2 separate regions of the Homo sapiens genome follow, and region 2 is reported to be linked to region 1. The links are microRNA targets in miRTarBase. Many come from high-throughput screens and were not tested one by one. Region 1 holds a microRNA gene; the other region holds the end of a gene's coding sequence.

Evidence for each region. Region 1 holds the annotated microRNA hsa-miR-548ae-5p (AAAAGUAAUUGUGGUUUUUG, at 2,447-2,466, opposite strand). A microRNA usually pairs through its seed, bases 2 to 8, with sites in the 3' UTR of a target mRNA and lowers its output. Matches are read on the target gene's strand: a 7mer-m8 pairs with bases 2 to 8, a 7mer-A1 pairs with bases 2 to 7 and ends in A, and an 8mer does both.
Region 2: the mRNA of FOXN2 is a reported target of hsa-miR-548ae-5p. Seed matches in the 3' UTR shown: 7mer-m8 at 1,160-1,166, 7mer-m8 at 3,470-3,476 and 7mer-A1 at 3,697-3,703.

The regions. Positions count from the first base shown.
Region 1 is chr5:58,527,639-58,532,818 of GRCh38, forward strand. MIR548AE2 (microRNA 548ae-2) reads right to left here and starts at 2,471; the gene lies at 2,405-2,471. RefSeq lists enhancers at 2,668-3,169, 3,191-3,799.
Region 2 is chr2:48,374,757-48,379,756 of GRCh38, forward strand. FOXN2 (forkhead box N2) reads left to right here. Exons shown (of 7, transcript NM_002158.4): 7 at 164-4,539. The coding sequence ends at 687. Among named protein-coding and RNA genes, the nearest start is that of FOXN2, 63 kb to the left of the region's middle.

The DNA.
Region 1 (5,180 bases):
CTGGTTCAGCTAGTGCCTACTTGTATCCAAACCACCAGACTCATCCTTCTCATCTTTCCGACTTTTCTATTTTCTGTCAATGAATCTGGAGGTCACAGAGAGAAGAGATAGGGAGTGAGTGGTATGAATGGGAAAAGTTGGAGGGAAAAGGTGGTTTAAACAAGATTGGTCATTTGTTAAAGTTATTTTAATTGTGGAAGCTGAGTGACAAGTATATAGGGTTCACTATACCATTTTCTCTTCTTTTGTTATTTATTTGAAGTGTTTCATCGTATGTAATATATACATAGTTTACATGTAAACGTACGTACACATATATGTGTATATTATGTATATATGTATGCAGGAATAATAAAAAGCAGATTGTGTGTCTGTGTCATTAAAGGCAGGGGAAGAATAGGAAAAATGGAGTGACCTCTTAATGTATAATTAACTAGGCTTGTAGCTCTGATTGTATCATTAGTGCAACATAATATTCTGATGGTTCCAGGCTTATTGCTTCATCCTGTGTATATTTGGTAAGAAATTGTTGGGTTTTGAGGGGAGTCAAGAAATACCAATCCCTTTCCTCATCCAAATTATGAATTGATTATGAAGATCAGAAGAATAAGGAAGACAGAGAGTAAAGTCCATCATTTCTTACTGACATTGGTTAATTAGAAATGTGTTTTGGGTCCTGTTAGTTAAGTGGGCTTCCTAATACTCTACCCACAAATTGAAAGATTTACACACCCAGTCACAAACACAACTGGATATCCACCAACCTTCCTTGTAAGAACTTGCCCCTGTAAACATTGGGCTTAGAAATTCTAAGTAAAATGTGTGATTTTCTGTGAGCAACTGGATCTTAAAGAGGAAAAAGAAGGAAAGGGCCTGAGACATTTATGTCCAGTTTCTCTTTCCCTGCTCACCAATATCCCTGGAAGAGTGAGTGAGAGGGTGGAAGGGAAGAACTAAGGAATTTCCATCCACATAGAAGGAAAAATGAATGGGATATAAAAGTACCCTTATTAAATGACCAATGGAAGCTTTTACTTGGGAAGTTAAAAGAAAGGCAACATCACAATTCTAGCCATTGGTCTTGTTGTTAGAGTAGATGCCATATTTATTATTACTGTATTAGAAGACTCTTCTATTGACCCCATTAAAGGTGCCTTGAATTTTGCTTAACATCATATCTCAGTGTCATGGGGAAGCTTCATGGCCTTAAAAAGAGAAGATGCCCCAGAAGTATGCTTTCATTGAGGCTGGTGAGAAGCTGGATTTACTTTTTGGTTCAGGCACATTTATTAATAGTTGATGCTTTAGAGAAGGATTGTTTCTATTATATTGACTGTGGTTTGGGAAGAGTGTTTAAAAGTCCAACAGATATTCCTGGCATGAGAACTTTTACCATCTATCACTATTTTGGCATATATTTTCAAAAGTATTAATCATTTTTATATTTGCCTGTAAGATGCCTTCAAATATTCTGCAGCCAGCCCTGGTTAAAAAATTGAGGAAAACATTCTTTTTCATAGAGATGTTTGGCCATTACATGGTTATCTTGTCCTATAATGTCTCCCTGACTTTTAGTAACAGCTGTATTAATAATTTGTCACATCAAGAGTTATTCCCTTCCTTTGAACTCTTCCAGTACTATGTTTGTACCTGTTTTGTGATATTTACTTCATGGCTTGTCTTGTCCATACTGGGGTCTATTCTTACCAGTCCTATAAAATTACAGGTTTCTAAAGGTCTGGAATCATTTCTTGGTCAACTTTTTTATCATCACAGCACCTGTCATAGAGTAAGTACACAATAAATGTCTTTTGAATGCATGAATAATCACATGAAAAAAAATTGAATTTCCTGCCTTTTTTTGTCTAGATTGTTTGTTGTGTTTTTCTCTTACTATTATTCTTTCCTACACAAATCTGCCACTAAACGTTCTTCGCTTTCACATATTTTTTTCTGACATAATCTTTGTTGACTAAATGATCCTGCTCTATGTCTATATCCTCTAATCTTCAGATTTCTAGACTTAAAATATAACAATAAAGAGAAAAAAATTGCTCAGAGAAAATATAGTGATTTAAAATACTTTTTGTACTGTTTTAAAATACCTACTTTATCAAAATAATACATCCAAAGTCATTTTTTAAAAATCAAGTTGTATAGAAGAGCTTTTGGTAAAAAGAAATAATTGGCCCCACGTCTTTTGCTAGCCCTATTTTCTCTCCCTACTTGCAACCACTTTTAACAGTTTTTAGATCTTTTTATAGATACTGTCACATTTCTAAATATGGGGATATCATAATTAATTGGGTCTTCATGTGATCAATGAGGTGCTAGCTTACTTTGACTACCATCCATGATCTCTCCTTTACCTCCTACATATACAGATGTTATTTAATATTAGGTTGGTGTGAAAGTAATTGCAGTTTTTGCCATTACTTTTAAATGACAAAAACCACAATTACTTTTGCACAAACCTAATAATAATTGCCATTGTAACATTACATCGCATGCTTTAACCTTTTATTATCTCACCTATAAATAGTACCTCTTAACATTTTTAAGTTAAGTGCCCCTATCATTACTGTGAACCTCAAAAATCTTAGACAGGTCTTGGTTAATTTACAAAGTTTATTTTGTCAAGGTTGAGGATGTGCACCCATGACACAGCCTCAGGACGTCCTGACGACATGTGCCCTAAATGGTCAGAGCAGTTTGGTTTTATACGTTTTAGGGATACATGAGACATCAATCAACATACGTAAGATGAATATTGGTTCAGTCCAGAAAAGGCAGGACAACTTGAAGCAAAAGAAGGACAATTTGAAGTGGGGAGGGGGCCTTCCAGGTCATAGGTAGATAAGAGACATATGGTTGCATTCTTTTGAGTTTCTGATTAGCCTTTCCAAAGGAGGCAGTCACATATACATTTATCTCAGTGAGCAGAGGGGTGACTTTGAATAGAATGGGAGGCAGGTTTGCCTTAAGCAGTTCCCAGCTTGACTTTTCCCTTTAGCTTAGTGATTGTGGGGCTACGAGATTTATTTTCCCTTCACATTACTTTCACCTAAAGGCACCTATGAATACATATTGAATATTTGTGTCAATTGGGAAAAGACGCTGCTTCAGGTGGACTCAACTCATATGGGCATGGATGATAGGTTTTTGATCTTTGGTACAAAGAAAACATGTCTGATATGGTTTGGATATTTGTCCCTGCTGAAATCTCATGTTGAAATGTACTCCTCAAAGTTGGAGGTAGGGCCTTGAATTAGTCCATTCTCACATTGCTGTAAGGAAATACCAGAGACTGGGTGATTTATAAAGAAAAGAGTTTTAATCGACTCACAGTTCCACATGGCTGAGGAGGCCTCAGAAAACTTACAATCATGATGGAAGGCACCTCTTCTCAGGGCAGCAGGAGAGAGAATGAGTGCCAGCAGGGGAAATGCCAGCTACTTATAAAACCATCAGATCTTGTGAGAACTCACTCATCATGAGAATAGCATGAGGAAACCACCTCTGTGATTCAATTACCTCCCACCAGGTCCCTCCCATGACATGTGGGGATTATGGGGATTACAATTCAAGATGAAATTTGGGTGTGGACAAAGCCAAACCATATTAGGCCTGGTAGGAGGTGTTTGGTTCATAGAGGCAGACCTCTCATGGCTTGGTGCTCTCCTCATGATAGTGAGTGAGTTCTCATGAAACCTGGTTGCTTAAGTGTATGGCACCTGTATCTCCTCTCTCTCTTGCTCTCAGTTTTGCCATTTGAGATTCCTGCTCCCCCTTCACCTTCCACCATGATTGTAAACTTTCTGAGACCTCCCCAGAAGCAGATGTCAGTGCTATGTTTACTCTACAGGTTGCAGAACAGTGAGCCAATTAAACCTCTTTTCTTATAAATTACCCAGCCTCAGGTATTTCTATATAGAAATGAAAGAATGCCCTAATGCAGAAAGTTGCTATCAAGGAGTGAGATATTGCTATAAAAATACCTAAAAATATGGGCATCACTTTGGAACTGGGTAATGGATAGAAGTTGGAAGAGTTTGGATGGCTTAGGAGAAGACAGGAAGGTGAGGGAAAGTTTGAAACTTCTTAGAAACTGGTTAAATGGTTGTGACCAAAATGCTGATGGTGATATGAACAATGAAGTCCAGGCTGATGAAGTCTCAGATGGAAATTAGGAACTTATTGGGAACTGGAGCAAAAGTCATGCATGTCACGCCTTAGCAAAGAATTTTGTTGCATTGTCTTCATGCCCTGGGGGTCTGTGAAAATTTGAACTTTAGAGTGATGATTTATGGTGTCTGGTGGAAGAAATTTCTAAGCTGAAAAGTGTTAAAGATATAACCTGGCTGCTTCTCACAGTCTATGCTCAGATGCAGGAGCAAATAAATGATTTAAATTTGGAATTTATATGTAAACATGAAGCAGAACATAAAAGTTTGGAAAATTTGCAGCCTAGTCATGTGGCAAAGAAAGAAAAAGCTTTTTCAGGACATAAATTCAAGGAGGCTGTGATGCAACCCCTTACTTGTGATATTGGCATAACTAAAAGGGAGCCAAGTACGAATATCCAAGACCATGAGAAAAAGACCTCAAGGGCATTTCAGAGACCTTCATAGCATCCCCTTATATTACAGTCCCAGAGGTCTAGGAAGGAAGAATTGTTTATGGGCCAGGCCCAGGGCCCCACTGCCCTACACAGCCTTGGGACTCTGCTTTCCACATTCTGGCTAGCAGCTCCTGTTCCCACCAAGGTCAAAGGGACTCAGGTGCAGCTCAAGCTGCCATTTTGGAGAACACAGGCTGTAAGCCTTGGGGGTTTCCATGTGGTATTAACCCTGCAGCCATGCAGACTGGCAGAATGAAGGCTTGGCTTGGCTTCACACTTTATCAAATGTACTTCATTTTTTAACTTCTACATTCTCCTTTGAAAGCATCATCATTTGTGTTTTGTATAGCAGTTAAATGTAATGCAAAACATTTACATTACTACACCAATGTATCATTCACCATAGGAAAACCAATTATGACTATATATCCTTTCTTTTGTATAGCTTTTTGTTTCCCCAAAATTGCCATTTTTAATTTTTATTCTCTCCCTCTCTTCCTTTCTTCTTCTCATTTGGAGCTCTCTAGCCCTTGCTTCAAGCTAGACTAATTGATCTTGG
Region 2 (5,000 bases), not on the chromosome of region 1:
ATGCTTGCAAAATGATGTGATCTGGGTAAAAAAAAATAAAAAATCTACAAAGCATCATGAATCTAAAACATTTGTTGCTCAAGAGTAATGTAGTAGTTTAAAATTGGTCTGTTTTTGCAACCAAACACATTTGACCTATTGATGGAACTTTTATTTTCCACAGGTGAGAAGCCTCTTCCTCTTAAAACAGCATTGCAAAAAAAGAGGAGTTACGGCAATGCATTTCATCATCCCAGTGCTGTACGATTACAAGAGAGTGATTCTTTAGCCACCAGCATTGATCCAAAAGAAGATCACAATTACAGTGCAAGTAGCATGGCAGCACAGCGTTGTGCATCCAGGTCTAGCGTGTCTTCCCTGTCTTCTGTGGATGAGGTATATGAATTTATCCCAAAGAATAGTCACGTGGGAAGTGATGGCAGTGAAGGATTTCACAGTGAAGAAGATACAGACGTTGATTATGAAGATGATCCTCTTGGAGACAGTGGCTATGCATCACAGCCTTGTGCAAAAATCTCTGAAAAAGGGCAGTCAGGCAAAAAGATGCGAAAACAGACATGTCAAGAAATTGATGAGGAGCTCAAAGAGGCAGCTGGATCTCTGCTCCACCTTGCTGGAATTCGTACATGTTTAGGTTCCCTAATAAGTACTGCAAAGACACAAAATCAAAAGCAACGGAAAAAATAGAAATACTTAAAGTGTGGCAATACTCTTTCACTTAATTCTTTACAAGGGATATCAAAGCCATAATGGACTTCATTAGTTTTAGGGTAGGGAAGGGATACTAATTACTTATTTCTTTCAAAACATTTTTGGTTTTTGGTTTTTAAAATTTTTATTAAACAATTGCTGTTAGGATCATGCCTGATCAGAAATACATGATGTGAAGTCCTAAAAGCATAATTTTTGTGATAAATGTGTCCAAGATTTGAAAATTTTTATATAAGAAAATCCCCAGCCTCTGTCTTAAACTTGTGGGACAAAAATCCTTTCTTCTGTTAATATGTCAGAATGTAAGATTTGGCAACTCGATAAATTTTTTTCATTTTCTTTTCCAATCTGTAACTATAGTTACTGAACCAGCTAAAAATTTTGCTGATGTATTTTTCATATACTTCTCTCCTGACACGCAATCCGGTAACATAAGATTGAAATTTTTTTACTTTGTCTTAATTTGTTTCTAATTTTTTTTTTGTTGTCGTGTGAGCAAAGACAAACATAAATTGAAAAACATCCTGATGTTTAGAAAGTTTCTTTTGGTTACGTAGGTAGAGAATACAACAAAGAGTTCTAAGACTTAGAAAAGACAATTTTGTGGTGTCATTTCATCCAAGAACACTCCCAATTCCTATTAGAATGGTAGCTTTGAAGTGTTTTTACTTCAGAGATCCTGCATAGCATTTATTGGGGCCTTTTATTCTTTCCCAAAGTGCTTTGCAAACATTAAGTTTTAGCCACTAGCTGCCTTTGTTGAGTATAAGTTATCCAGTGAGAGGATATAGCCAATTAAGTGTGTTATGGAGTACACCCATTTTGACACACTTGTAATAAGAGAATCTTTCATTTGCCTGCCATGTGTACTGTATTATGAGAATCTTATAATCGGAATGGAGTGAAATGAAACATTTTGAGTACTGATGGCATGTTATCATACATAAAGTAGGTCATTTAGGAAAAAACTTCTGTCCAAGCTTTGTATGAATTAAATTCATAAGTATACCAAATTAAATCTTAATAGATTTAATGCAATTTTACAGACACAATACCTTCATGAATTTCAAAATTCATATAAAATTTGATCTTATGCAATACACCTTTTTGAGGAGGCAGTGTAACAACCTATAGTGCCATTGATCCATGAGAAAAAGATTTTCTGGTACTACTCCAAAAGTGCTTTGACTAAGTATCTTAACTATTTGAACAGTCTGCTTATATGAGACAGTTTTTCATAGTATCATTTGTATAATTTGATTAGATTATTCAGAAACAATAGGATGCTAAACTAATTCATTGTATCTTTTTTTTACAATGGTGGAAGCAACTTTCTGAAAGTTCAGTCTTATGCTACATCCTAAGTCATAGACAATGACCTTGTTTTCATTATTCTGATAGATTGTATACATATGTACACATACATATACACATATGCACAGTCAAGGTCATGATGTTGATTTGCTTTCAGCTGTTTCTGTGATTATAAAGCATTTTTTAAGAGACAAATTTTAACTTTTAATTTTTATTTTGGCAAAACTGTCAAATGAGAAAAATGATTTTAAAAACTTTTTTTTCAATTGACAAGACTTTAAGTCAGGGATAACAGTATTAATGTTCTCTGTTCTGTTTCCATGTTAAATTTAATTTAACCTGGATAGCCACATTAATGAATTGGTGCTGTCAAAATATAGTAATTTTTAAATTTGTTAATAATGAAAACCCTTAAGCATGCAGGATGAGGTATTTGGGTTTTTTTTTTAGATCGATCACATCTACAGAAAATGGCTAAACCAAGTTAACTTTTATTATAGACAGTGAATAAAACACCAAAAACCCAAAAATGCTTTAACCACAGTATAAATAATAGATTATACACATCATCTTAATAACTATTTTTAAGTTATTTACCATAGCCTCTGTATAGACCTTAGGAACAGTGTTTCAGTGATCTGGCACCAGTTTATTTTGTTCTGCTGAAATTCTGTATCACAAATGTGCTACCTGGTTTTTGTCCATTAGATAATTACTCTTTATAAGGAAAGGAAAGAGAAGCAGAGTTAGTTCCAGCTCTAATAGGGATCTTCAAAGTTATTTTGTCTTGATGTATGTAACAGTAATTCTTTACATCTTTTGATTTTTCTCTTCCTTTTTATTCACTCTTCCCACGAATTTAAATGTTTAAGTTATATTCATCACTAGCAAGGATGATAAACACTTGTGCACTGAAAGCTAACAGGGAGAGGTTACACAATATTTTACAGTTTCTTAAACATAATTTAATGCATCACCTTCCACTTGCTAACATACCAAGTCAGTTATTTTCAAGGGAAGAACCTTTTAAATTATGGTCCTCCATTTACTACTTCCACTGAGAGTATGCTCTCATTCCTCAGGTGTTTTGAGAAACATGACTAATAACCACACAATTAAGTAGAGTCATTCCAAGTCCTATGGCCTGGAAATTGTATTCCCTATAATATACAAATTTTCCTGTAATAAAGTCAACTTAGAAACTCCAAGGAGGTTACATGTTTTCCAACATATCCTAAAAACTGTGATATAAGCTAACATATAATTTGCCTTACGTCAAAAGAATATGTTTTGTTGCAGCTGATTCCAGTTTATAATAGATCCCTAGTAAAAAGCTTTGATTCAACACAATTGTTCATCTTCACATCCCAAACAGAATCACTGTTTCTTGAATATATATTTTTGAAGTTTTTTTGTGCAATATATTACTAAATCAGTTATTATTTTACTTTTCCAAATTCAGAGAAAGAAAACAGATTACCTGAATTCATGGAAAAGGTGGATCACCTCCCTTTTTCCACCTTCAAGCCTTTCCTGTCCTCATAGCCAGCATGACTTCTTTTAACTTGGATTCCTTTGTATATAGTAAAGTTTAGTATATATATATTTTTTTCTTTTTGCTACTTTCTGAGGCATTATGTAAAGGGCTCATACTAGATGTTCAGTTAAATATACTTTAGCACAAAGTCAAACTAGAGAATGTGTTAAGGAGGGAATGTATATGTCTTGGTAGACCAGGAGGCCTTTGCCAGCAATTTAAGCAACAGATGTGAATACTTCACAAAGCTGTAAAGACCATTGTCTTAAATACTACAACAACTTAACACCCTTTTGTGAAGATCACAGCATTTATCTAAGAAACTGTGAGGCTTTCTGGTTTACATATATCTTACAGGTGTTTTTTTGTATTTTTTTTTTTTTTTAGTTTGAAATGTGTAAGCTTTGATTTAAACCAAGTTTACTTCAGTATGTTAATGATGTAGTAAAAATATTTATTGAAAGGTGAATTCGAGTATTTTAATGTTATACCTGCCATTTTTTTTCTTAAAGCATATTCTTTGCATCTAACTGCCAGTGCCATTGTCAAAACTTATTTTTTAAATCGTTGTACATTTCTTATTAAACTAAGTGCTTAATTTTAAAGTATTATGTTGCCATCATATAGTGTATAAAAATGTATAATTGCCAATTGATTGTAACTATTATTTATTTTTAAATGAAAGTGTAAGAATGCTTTCTGATTCAACAAATTTGTTATCAAACTGTTTCCTTATCCTCTTTTCTGATGTAGCATAAAAATTGTCCCGGTTTGAGTTATAACTGCCAGTAGATGACCAGTCACAAGTGAACCACTTCTCAGTTGCCAATCTTTGCTCATATTAAAAACAACTTACAAATACTTAGTTTTTGTATCTAATCTCTGATTATTAAAATGTTTATAAAGTTTATTTTTACCAAAGAGATGCAATTCATTATGAGAAAGTATTGCATAATAAATTTTGTTTTATAACTTTTTTTGTGCTTTCTCTGATCTTTTGTAGGATAGGGTGGGACAGGAGAAGGATGGTAGGGCAGATGTGATGGCTATACTTCTACACACACTTTCCATTCAAATTGGAGTCAAGGAAATGAAAAATGCAGTTTAATTTCAATTTTTTTAAAAGTATTTTTTATGGTTTTTAGATGTTAATTACTGAAAGCTAAAATGACATTAATTAAATTACTATCTTCCTAAAGTTAAACTTCTTTTCCTATTAATTTACATGTATCTGAAATATTTTGAAATATAACTGGGAAAAATGGAGTAGAATATGAAACGAGCCTGGCCAACATAATGAAACCCCGTCTCTACTAAAAATACGAAAATTAGCCAGGTATAGTGGCGAACGCCTGTAATCCCATCTACCCAGGAGGCTGAGGGATGAGAAATGCTTGAACCCAGGAGGCGGAGGTTGCAGTGACCTGAGATCCCACCA